Regions from separate parts of the Homo sapiens genome. Here region 1 is linked to region 2. Evidence: fine-mapped expression QTL. A gene starts in region 2. The other region holds a variant in brackets. All regions are shown on one strand. Distances are between the middles of the regions.

Region 1 (5,366 bases), 610 kb after region 2:
GAGTTCAGGAGACCCCACTGAGTTGGAACCTGTTGGTCAGAAGGGAGCAGGCACCAGGGCAGGGGTGGCTTTGTTCTGGACCAAATATCTCTTGGAGTAGGAAGACAACAGGTTAGGTTATTCCCTTCCCATCCAAGAGCACCTTCATCAGTCAGGATATCCAGGCTCCAGGGACTTAGCCCTCACTGTCTGAGTCCCTACAGATGCCATTATCTGCCTGATTTATTCATCCACCTGCCCATCGACCCACCTGTCCATCAATCCACCTGTCCATCAATCCATCTGTCCATCCATCCATCCTTCCATGTTTGTCGGTCCATTTGTCCATTCATCTACCATTTGGTCACTCATTCCATCCATCCATCAATCCATCCATCCATGTATCTATTCTTCCATCCAACCATTCATTCATTCATCCATCCATCCACTTATGCATTCATTCAGCAAACACCGAATGTAATAGGTCATTCCCTACTATTAAGAATAAAAACTAAGGTCTCTGTCCACAATGAGCTCACAGACTAGAGGGCAATATAGAGACAAGCAAAGAGATGATTCCAGCACAGTAAGTGGGAGATACTAGGTACTGAGGGTGAAGAGATGGAGGACCTAACCCAGCCTGGGAGGTGGAGGAGGTGGTTTTGAAAGGCTTCCTGGAGAAGGTGACACCTGAGATGAGTCTTGGAGCAAGATTAGGAGTTGTCCAGGTGAAGAGGAAAATAAAACAGAGCAGCAGGAGAGTACAAAGGCCTGGAGGTGGCCTGACAGCAGGAGCTATTTGGGGAGCTGCAAGTAGCTGAGCCTGGATGAAACCATGAGAGCCAGTTGGAGGTGGGGTGGGATGAAGCTGAGAGGCTCTGTGTAGTTGGGGAGGACATTTGCAACTGGAGGTAGGAATGGGGACTGAGGCCTTGGGCACATCCGAGAACTATTTGGAGAGGTAGAAAGCCTCTGGGTCAGGCATGGGAACTCCAGGTTCCTTCCTCCCTTCTACCCCTGAGGGATGTTAGGCAACTCACCTGGCTTCTCTGGGACTCAGTTTCCCAGCTGTGACGTGACAGGTTGCCCTTTTAGCCTCTTGGGACTCTTCCAGCTCTGAGGGAGCTCCTGAGTCACATGTGGTCAACAAAACCAATGCCCACGTGAACATCTGGTCTGGCCTTAGGAGGGAGTTAATTGTTCCCAGTCTCTATGTGTGTTAGGGGGAGGGTGGGGGGAGGCCTTGGTCAGGGGGACCTTGGTTAGGAGCCACCCCCGAGGGGCTCCCAGTCATGGGATGACAGGACATGCTGAGAAGGGAGTGAGTCACTGGCCAGTCATCAGCTTGGGCCCCAGGGTCTCGGGGGGGCAGGGGAGCCCCATTCCCTGCTCATCACAGAGCCTCCTTCTCAAGATGGCTGACCCTTTGTTAGAGCAGCAAAACCCCATGCTACACTCTAATATTTAAAACAGGCCCAAGGACAGTGGTTTGGGATGAAGCAAATGGTGAGAGCCCTCACCCAGAGCAGCCCCCAAGGCCCCACCGAGGAGCCCCTCCAAGTCTAAAAGTCCAAACACCCGAGTCCCTCAGCAGGAGTGACAGGCCCAGAGTCAGTAGGGACTGACTGGAGCTCACACAGCACGTTCATTCGCTTCTCTCCTCTCCTGGCTCTGACACTGCCCTTCCCCGCTCCTGAAGGATGGAAGATAAAGCCAGGCTCCTCCACCATCCCCTGCTCTCTGCAGAGCCTCCCTTCCCTCGAGGAGGTCACGTGTCCGGTGCCAGGTGGCTCCTCTCAGCTCAAGCCCATGGTGGCTCCTTGGCAGCACCATAGGAGACATAGCTGAACCATGCTCTGCCCCGGGCATGACCCCTGCAGAATTTGCCTCCATCTCTGGGTCTGTGTCTTCACCTTTTCAATGGGAAGAGTGAGAGGCTGGGATAACTAGCATGGCACAGGGCTTATTATGTGTCACGTGTATATGCAATCCTCACAGAAACCCCCTAAAGGAGGCATCATTATTATCCTCATTATACAGGTGGGGAGACTGAGGAACCAAGAAGTTGAGTGACTTGCCCAAGGTCACATAGCCAGTAGGAAGCAGAGCTGGGATTTGAACCCAGGTGGCTGGCCCTTGAGTCCCTGCTCTCACTCATTGTGCTATATTGCCTCTTAAAAGATGACCCAAAAGCACCTGCTAGTTCCTGCTGCCTGGCATCTGGACAGGAAGATAGAGGTGATTCAAGGGAAAGGGGGAGAAGCTCTGCTCATTTACTCACTATGTGACCTTGGGCCAGCCACTTCCTCTCTCTAAGCCTCAGTTTCCAAGGTTTGTTGTGAGAATTAAAGGGCTGGGGCAGTGACATTCAGGAGATGGTAGCAGTGATCGTGGTTAGTATTCCTTCAGTACTCACTCCTGCCCCACGGCCCCCTGCGGACACTCTCTTTGGGTGGGGAAGAGGTGGCAGCTGTAATGGAGACCTTTTCTTCCATCTCTGAGCTACCCGGGTGTGTCCCCAGGAGAAGTTTCCCCTCAGATCCCCGGAAAGGACCAGCAGGGGAAAGTCTAGCCACACCCTATCTC[C/T]TGGGCGCAGCCCCTGCTCCATGCTCAGATCCCGAGACCTGGTCCCCTTACGGGCCAGTTCACTATCAGGGACCGGCGTGGGCATATGGGCTGCCCAGGCGGCAGCTAGGGGCATCTAGACCAGCTTCCAGAAGCCCAGGGTGGAGGGCACGTGGGACAGGAAGACCCCAGTGCCCCACGCCACCAGCCCCATCAGCTCCCCTAGCCCCAGAGAAAACACTTCATTACTGGAAGCCCAGCCAGGCGGAGGGGGTGGAAGTAGCCTTGTTGAAAGAAACCGCACGAGGTCAGCCAAACCTCAGCCCCTCTTGGCCAGCAACCCACAGATCAACCACGTGGGGCTGGCTCTCCGGGTGTTTACGGAAACACTGGCCCTGAGGTCAGCCCAGCTGCTGGGCTGGGATCCCCTGGGACACCCCCAGGCCTCAAAGTGCCAGCTTGGCAGGAGTCTTCAGAGGCTGCAGCTGGGGCCTTATTTGCCTCCACAGTCCACCTGGGAAGTGGAGCGCAGAGAAGCCCGGTGGGCAGTGGAGATGGGCCAGGTCTTCAGGCTTCCCTGGACAGCTGCTTGAGCTGGGACCAGGGGCCAGACCCTTTCCAGACACCCCTGGGAAAGGGACATCATCTCGGGAGAGGGACATAGAAAGTGGACTGTGGAGGCAGATGGCCTGGGTTTGAATTCTGGCTGTGGCCCTCGCAGGCTCTGTAACTCTGAGCAGTTTACTTAGCTTTTCTGTGCCTCAGTTTCCCCATCTATGAAATGGGAATGGTGATAACAGTACATACTTCACAGAGGTGTTGACATAATTAAATGATTTTAGTAAGTGATCTAAATAAGTGATCACTGGCTGGGCGCAGTGGCTCAAGCCTGTAATCCTAGCACTTTGGGAGGCCAAGGCGGGCAGATCACTTGAGGTCAGGAGTTCGAGATCAGCCTGGTGAACATGGCGAAACCTCATCTCTTAATACAAAAATTAGCCGGGCGTGGTGGCACATGCCTGTAATCCCAGCTACTTGGGAGGCTGAGGCAGGAAAATCGCTTGAACCTGGGAGGAAGAGGCTGCAGTGAACCAAGATTGTGCCACTGTACTCCAGCCTGGAAAGCGAGACTCCATCTCAAAACAAACAAATAAATAAATAAATAAATAAATAAATAAACACAATTTTAAAATAAATAAATAAATAAGTGAGAATTTAATAGATGATCCAAGTGGTGTGCTTGGAACAGTCCTTGTCACAAACTAAGTGCTACCCTTAGTGCCGCCGCATCCTACCTAGTGGCCTCCCTCCTCTGAGATCCTCCTGCTCTGTTCAGGTTGGACCGCGTGCTCCTCTGAACTCCCAAGTGTTTGTTATGGAAATCTCTTCCACTTAAACGTTTGCTGAGCATTCCGACCATGAATAATGAGGAACTGAGGTTACAGAGACAAATCCAGTTTAGATCCTGCTCCAGGGAGCTTCAAAGCTAAGGCAAGGATGGGAGGTGAGGCCTGTGCGCTTGGGCAGGGTGACTATAATCCCTAATTATAGTCTCCATGGTAACGAACTGGGGTAACTAATTGGCTGTCCAATGTCTGTGTTTGTGGGAGCAGGGGCTACATGGTCCCTCCACTGCTCCGTCCTGGAGACCAGCTCAGAGACTGGCACCAAGTTGCTAATGACCGCCTGGCACTAGAAGGACTACATGAACACCCGATGCGCTTGGAGCCCTGGCCAAGCTGCCCACACTGAGCCCGTGGTTTCCTTCACCCTCAGCACCTTAATGGAGTAGGGCGTATCATTCTATGTTCAGAGAAGCAAACTGAGGCTCAGAGACGCCAGCCCAATGTCCCACAGCTGGCGGGAGATACAGCTGAGGCTGAACCCACATCCAAGTTCAAAGCCTGCATTTTTAGCTACTCAGCCATACATGATCTTCCTGCAATGTCAATGTAGTATCAAATTACACAGCAACCCTCAGCCTGGGAGTTCAGAGGAGCACCCAGCCTGACCCAGGAGGATCCAGAGGAGGGGAGGGAGGACTTTCCAGGCAGAGGGATCCACTTGCAGAAAGGCGGGGCTGGGCCGTGCGCTGCTCCCAGCGACCTGTGTGTGGAATAGCAACAACTGTGGTGTGCAGGTCTGGGGTGTGTGAATTTTGGGAGCAACAGGTGGTGGGGTTGAGGAACATCTGCAAACAGCCTTGAATACCGGGGCAGGGTTTTAGACTATCCTGTGGGGTAGGAGTCCCCAGAGAGTTCCAAGCAGGGCCTGCATGTGGCCAGGATGGAAGATGAATTACAAAGAAAGGAGTGAGAGGCTGGGAGAAAACCTATTTGCTCAAATAACAAGGCTCAGTATCATTACCATGGAGGAGCTGTCTCCCCTAAATCAAAACTTGCCTGCCTGGAGTTCCACTTCATTTTAAACAATGTGTGCATGTATTGGGGGGTCCCAGAGCCTGGGCATGGAGCAGCTAGGCTTCAAGTCCTTGGAGCCCCGAAATATGCCTTCCTTCCCACCCCAGCCCCAGCGCCTTCAATGCCTTCCTCTGGGGTTAACCCCATTGTGGCCACAGTGGCTGCCAGCAGGGAGGAGGCACAGAGGTGGTGGGAACAGGGCTGAGGGGCACACAGGATCCTCAGCAGCCAGCTTCACCCCCCAGCTTATCCAGGATTCAGACAAGTCCAAGTTCAGATCTTGGATCTGCCATAGACGTGAGATGCGACCCTGGCTGGGTGCCTTGAGGTCTTGACACCTGAGCTACCACACTGGTCACATAAAGACAATAATCAATGCAAGGGCAGCGTGAGGACTGTGGA
Region 2 (5,366 bases):
ACCCATCTAATTTTTGTGTTTTTTGTACAGACATGGTTTTGTCATGTTGCCCATGCAGGTCTGGAACTTCTGGGCTCAAGCAATCTGCCCACCTGGGTCTGCCGAAGTGCTGGGATTACAGGGATGAGCCACCAGGCTGGCCAGAGTGTTTTGTTAAAAACATGAGTCAAATCATGTTAACTCCTTAAAATCCTCCACTGGTTTAAAATTCAAAGTCCTCCTGAGATCTGACCCCTGCTTACCTCTCTGACTTGTTTCCTACAACTCCTCCCTCTGATTTCAGCCACTGTCATTTCTTTTGTACCTCAAACAGGCCTAATTGGTACAGCCTCAAGGTCTTCCCATTTTCTGTTGCCCTTTTTTTTTTTGAGACTGAGTCTTGCTCTGTCGCCAGGCTGGAGTGCAGTGGCATGATCTCGGCTCACTGCAACCTCCGCCTCCCGGGTTCAACCAATTATCCTGCCTCAGCCTCCTGAGCAGCTGGGATTACAGGTGCCCGCCACCATGCCCAGCTAATTTTGTATTTTTTGGTAGAGAGGGGGTTTCACTGTATTGGCCAGGCTGGTCTCGAACTCCTGACCTCAGGTGATCCGCCCGCCTCGGCCTCCCAAAGTGCTGGGATTACAGGTGTGAGCCATCGCGCCCGGCCCTTCTGTTCCTTCTAATTGTAGCACGCTTTCCCCAGATATTCTCCTGTCTGGCTCCATTTCAGCATTCAAGTTTCAGTTCCAATGTTACCTCCCAAAAGGTCTCTCAACCTCCTTGACCTTTCTAGCTAATGTCCCCCCTGCCTTCAGTTTCCGTCAAATGGCCTCGTTCAGTTTTCCTTCTAGTGCTCATCATAATCTGCAAGTATCTTGTTTCCTGACTTGTGGGGAGTTTACTGTCTGTCTCTTCCACACTTGAGTGAGAGTGTGGGCTACAGAGCAGGGGCTGTTTCTGTCTTGTTCAGCTGTATGCCCAGTGCCCAGCAGTACCCACAGAGCCTGGTGCATACATGACAAACACTCAGTAAGTAGTTGTTGAATGAATGAATAAGTGAATCAATGGGAGAATGAGTGAATGAATGGAGACAGGAGATTCACAGGGAATCTCCTGCTGTAGAACTATAGACCAAAGTGGGGGCTAATGGTGGCTGAGGGTCAAGGCCCTGGTCGACCAATAGCTGAGATCTCAGCCCTGAGGCCTGCTCTGCGTCTAAAAGAGGCCCAATGGGTGGATGGAGGAGGTGCATAGGGCTGACAGTTGCAGAGACCTGGGAGGGGCTGCGGAGGCACCTACCGCTTCTCATTTCCGTATGATTTCTGGGCCACCTTGGCATGCAGGATCCGCACAGTCTGTTCACACTGTTGCTGCAGGCACCTGCGCACGCCTCCCCTCAGAATGGTGGTGTGCTCTGGGGATGACCTGGGAGTAGGGCAGGCAGGTCGACCAGCCACAGGAGGGAGAAGGGTCAAGGTGGCACAGGGTCCAAGCACTCAGGTTGAGTAAAATGAAGTGAGCAGGGGGTTAGAGTGAGTGGGAGGGTGGGGCTGCTCTATATCCTGCCCCTGTGGGGTCAGGAAGAGGAAGCATTAGGTAAGGAGGAGACTTGGCTGCAAATTGTAGGCTAAATATTTAGGCTGCAAGGTGCTCAACGAAGCCTGCATGGAACCCATGGGACCACCCAGGTTCCACTCTGTGGGTCTGGCATCATGCCCATTGGAGCCCAGGGCCATAGGGACACGTGGCTGTGACACAAAGGCTGCACTTATACTGGCCTTGGGATGGAGAAGAGTATTTTAGGGCTGATGGAATTGGTAGAGATGAAGCTTCCCCACCCTGGGGAAGGCAGGGTGGGGGGTGAGGAGGGAGGGGAAGGGAGAGCCTTTCCTGGGCTCCTGGCCTGGAGCGCTCTCTAGCCTCCTGCCTGCAAACAGAAAAGGGCCCAAAACCTTGTCCTCAGGATGGGGGATGGCCTGGGGGAATCTGAGCCTTTCTGGGGCCAAAGCCATATTCTTCCCTTTCTCCCATGAGAAGTGGCCTGTTGCTGTGTGGGCTTTCCTACCCTTGATTACAGGAGTCAAGGCAGATGACATTGGTCCTGCAGAGTGAGCCAGGTTAGAGCCTAGAGGTCTGGTGGCTTCTTAACCTGGGGGTCTTGAGCGGTGTGGGTGGGTAGGCCCGAGCAATTGCAGGGAGCAAGTAGAGGAGGGGAGGTGGGAGAGATTTGGGGGGTTAGCAGGTTGAGGCCCAAGGAGAGCCATGAAAACTGAGGCTGTCCTTCTGAGCCCTTATTCCTCTTGGCAGGACCAGAGTCTCTCCTCACTCCTGGAGGGGACAGCGCAAGACCGCACCCTCGAAAGCCAGGCCAGACAGGCAGCAGCCACAGCCAGGACCGCTCCACCCCTTGGGGCTCTCCTCAGGGAAGTGCCTTCTAAGCTTCCAATGAATTCCGGCTGTGGAGTGTGGCTGCCCCGGTCTCCCCAGTCTCCCGCTGTAGCTGAATTCCAGCCTGGCCCGCAGCTAGCCCTGTCTGCAGCTCCAAGCGTGGTAGGAGCAGGGGGTGCTGGGTTTGCCCCCCCTCAGGAGGAAGGGGGGATCCCTCCCTGCCAGTGGGAGGGGTTGCAGCCTGCACTTCCCCTCCCCACCCGCCAGCCCTGGGTTAAATGCGGCCGTTGCCTCTGTGTGCTCCAGCTGCCTGGCAGTCCCCACCTAGGGCACGCTGCCACGCCGCCGTTACCTGGTCCAAGTGCCCGGGAGGCTCCGCCTGTCGGCTTCGCTCTGCAGCTGCATCTCTGATCTGTCCTGCAGGCTCAGGTGAGTCAAAGGATTGGGAGGCACTGAGGGGTCTGCAGGGGAGTAGGCATCAAGCCAGGTCAGGCGAGTGTATTTTAGCAGAGACGCTGCCTAGGGTGCCCTATCTGATTTGCAGTGCCCTTCCCCACTTCTGCAGGGTCCTTTCCAAATCGAGCCCCCACCCTCAAAGCCATCAAAATAGGATCATCCCTTTTCTACTCTCATCCCTCCAGGAACCCCCTGAAATGTCCCTAAGGGACTTTTGAGAATTTATTTACAGGCCTCTCCTCCCTTGCTGCTCCACTCCCTCAACCTCACCTCAGGGCATCTCTGAATCTTTCTTTTTTTAATGCAAGGATTAACTCCTCAGAGGAATCCCAGGTTCTAGTATCAGTCCTGCCACGACATCGCCATGTACCCTTCAGCAAGACACTACCCTCTCTGGACCTAGTTCCTTTCTTTGTAGAATGAGGGGTTTGGAAAGGTGATGAACTTTGAGGCATTTGCTATTTTGACTTTCTAGGATTCCTGGGGTGGAGGCAGGGTGCCAGGTGAGAAGTTGGCTCAGACCAAGAATGGGATGAGGGGAACCTTAACCAAGATTTAGGGGCCCAGAGGCATCTCCGGGTAGGAAAGTATGGGAGGTGGCAGAGGCCCCTTGTGCCTTAGCCCTCATGCTGTCCAGGGATGTTGGCTTTGCCTGTGGCCCAAGCTTGACAAGGGTTCCCCGCCCTCCCACTTCCACCAGCGCTGCCACATCTTGCTTGGTCACCCTCCCACGACGGGCCCTGCCAGAGGATTTATGTTCTTCTACCAGGCCTGGGAGGGGAAAAGGGAGAAGAATCCGGGATGAGAAGGTCGCCTGGAGTGAGAAGCAGGCACTGGCCTCGCTCAGAATAGGCGCATTCACGGAATTGGGGGGCGGGGGCGGAGCTGCTGTTGGGTTAGGGGCAGCTGGCCCTCTCTGCCAAGAAACAGCAACAGAAAAATGGCTAACACAGCTTCAGCATGGGGCGCGGCGGTGGGGTAGGAGCTGGAAGGAAATGAGGTTTAGTGAATTCTAGGCGCCAGGGGGCCTCAAGAGAGAGAAGGGGAACCAGGAGCCCTAGGTTCTAATCCTGCTTTTGCAGTTCGGCGGGCTGCCTCCTTGGGGCTTAGTTTTCCTATTTGTATAGTGGGGAGGGGGTGGGGGGGTGGTCCTTCGTAGTTCTCACGGGGCGTCTCCGGGGCCTCGGGAGGGTAAGCGCTCACCTGCTGCCCCTGCGGGGTCCATGGTGGCTCCACGGGGCCCCAGCCGCTCACCCGCCGCCCTCTGGACGAGTCCAGTGCTGCTGTCGCTGGAACCCTGCACACCCCTGCTCCTCGGCTCTTGCGCGGGTTATATCCTGTCCAGGCCTTATCTCCAAGGCCCCGGGCCCCGGCCCCCTGTTTGCTCGGGGTGGGCGCACCTGCTGGGCAGATGTGGGCTTCCCACGCCCCCTGCCATCTCGGGCGCCCCCTGGCGGTCGCTCCTGAGAGCAGGCGGGAAACAGGCGCCAAGCCGCGCGTTCTCGTGCGCAGTGGGTTTTGGTCCACTCGCTGCCACGCCACCACGCTCAGCCCCGCAACAGGGCGCAGCCCCTCCCTGCCGCCTGCGGTTGGGCAGTGCATGTCTGTGTTTGTGTGTGTGGAGGGGTCTGGGGGGGTTGGCGAGTTGCAAAGACAGCCACACAGAAGCCTGTGTGCGTAGGGGAGTGGGCCGAGGTGGGGAAGGGCTTCTGTCTGCAGAGGTTCGCCTGGCAGGAGGAGAGGCACCAAACGCCCAGGCTGGCTCACAGAAACTAGCAGGCGTGGGATTGTATCCTGCCGCAGCCACTTTTTGGCCGAATGACTTTGGGTACCAGCGCTTAACTTTTCTGAGCCTCAATTTCATTGTCTGTATGATGGGGGACAATCACAGCCTTAGTCTTACAATTGCAGAGAGGATTAAATGCCACAATGCGTGAAGAGCATTTAACACTGTGCCTGACATTTAAGGAAGACCTGTTTTTTTCTGTTTAAATTTTGCATATTTGTATCTATGTATCTATTCTTATTTACCATTCTCTTGTGGGCCGAGCGCGGTGGCTCACGCCTGTAATCCCAGCATTCTGGGAGGCCGAGGTGGGAGGATCACCTGAGGTCAGGAGTTTGAGACCAGCCTGACCAACATGGCAAAACCCGCTCTCTACTAAAAATACAAAAAATTAGCCAGGTGTGGTGGCAGGAGCCTGTAATCCCAGCTACTCGGGAGGCTGAGGCCGGAGAATCGCTTGAACCTGGGAGGCAGAGGTTGCAGTGAGCCGAGATCATGCCACTGCACTCCAGCCGGGACGACAGAGCAAGACTCTATCTAAAAAAAAAAAAAAAAAGAATCTCTTGTGTTTCCCAGCAATCCCACTGTGATGAGAATTTTTTAATTCTGAAACATTTCAAACATACACAAAAATAGAGAGATTAGTAAAATAAACCTGTAACTGTCTTCCCCCTCCAAGTGCCTATCACCCAGAATAAGAGCTCTGTAAATACTGTTGCTTTTCTATTTTCCTTCCTCCCTCCAGGCTCTGACA

Evidence for each region. PIP is the estimated chance that this variant, and not a neighbour inherited with it, causes the effect.
Region 1: its variant is fine-mapped to the expression of MATN4 in minor salivary gland (GTEx, PIP 0.94).

Annotation. Positions count from the first base shown.
Region 1 is chr20:44,700,545-44,705,910 of GRCh38, reverse strand. No RefSeq gene overlaps it. Among named protein-coding and RNA genes, the nearest start is that of CCN5, 12 kb to the left of the region's middle. RefSeq lists an enhancer at 3,035-3,114. The variant C/T (reference allele first, on the strand shown) is at 2,566.
Region 2 is chr20:45,305,608-45,310,973 of GRCh38, reverse strand. MATN4 (matrilin 4) reads left to right here and starts at 2,675. Exons shown (of 10, transcript NM_001393530.1): 1 at 2,675-2,799; 2 at 5,358-5,366. RBPJL (recombination signal binding protein for immunoglobulin kappa J region like) reads right to left here and starts at 4,134. Exons shown (of 12, transcript NM_014276.4): 1 at 4,030-4,134; 2 at 2,723-2,831; 3 at 1,282-1,407. The coding sequence starts at 4,051.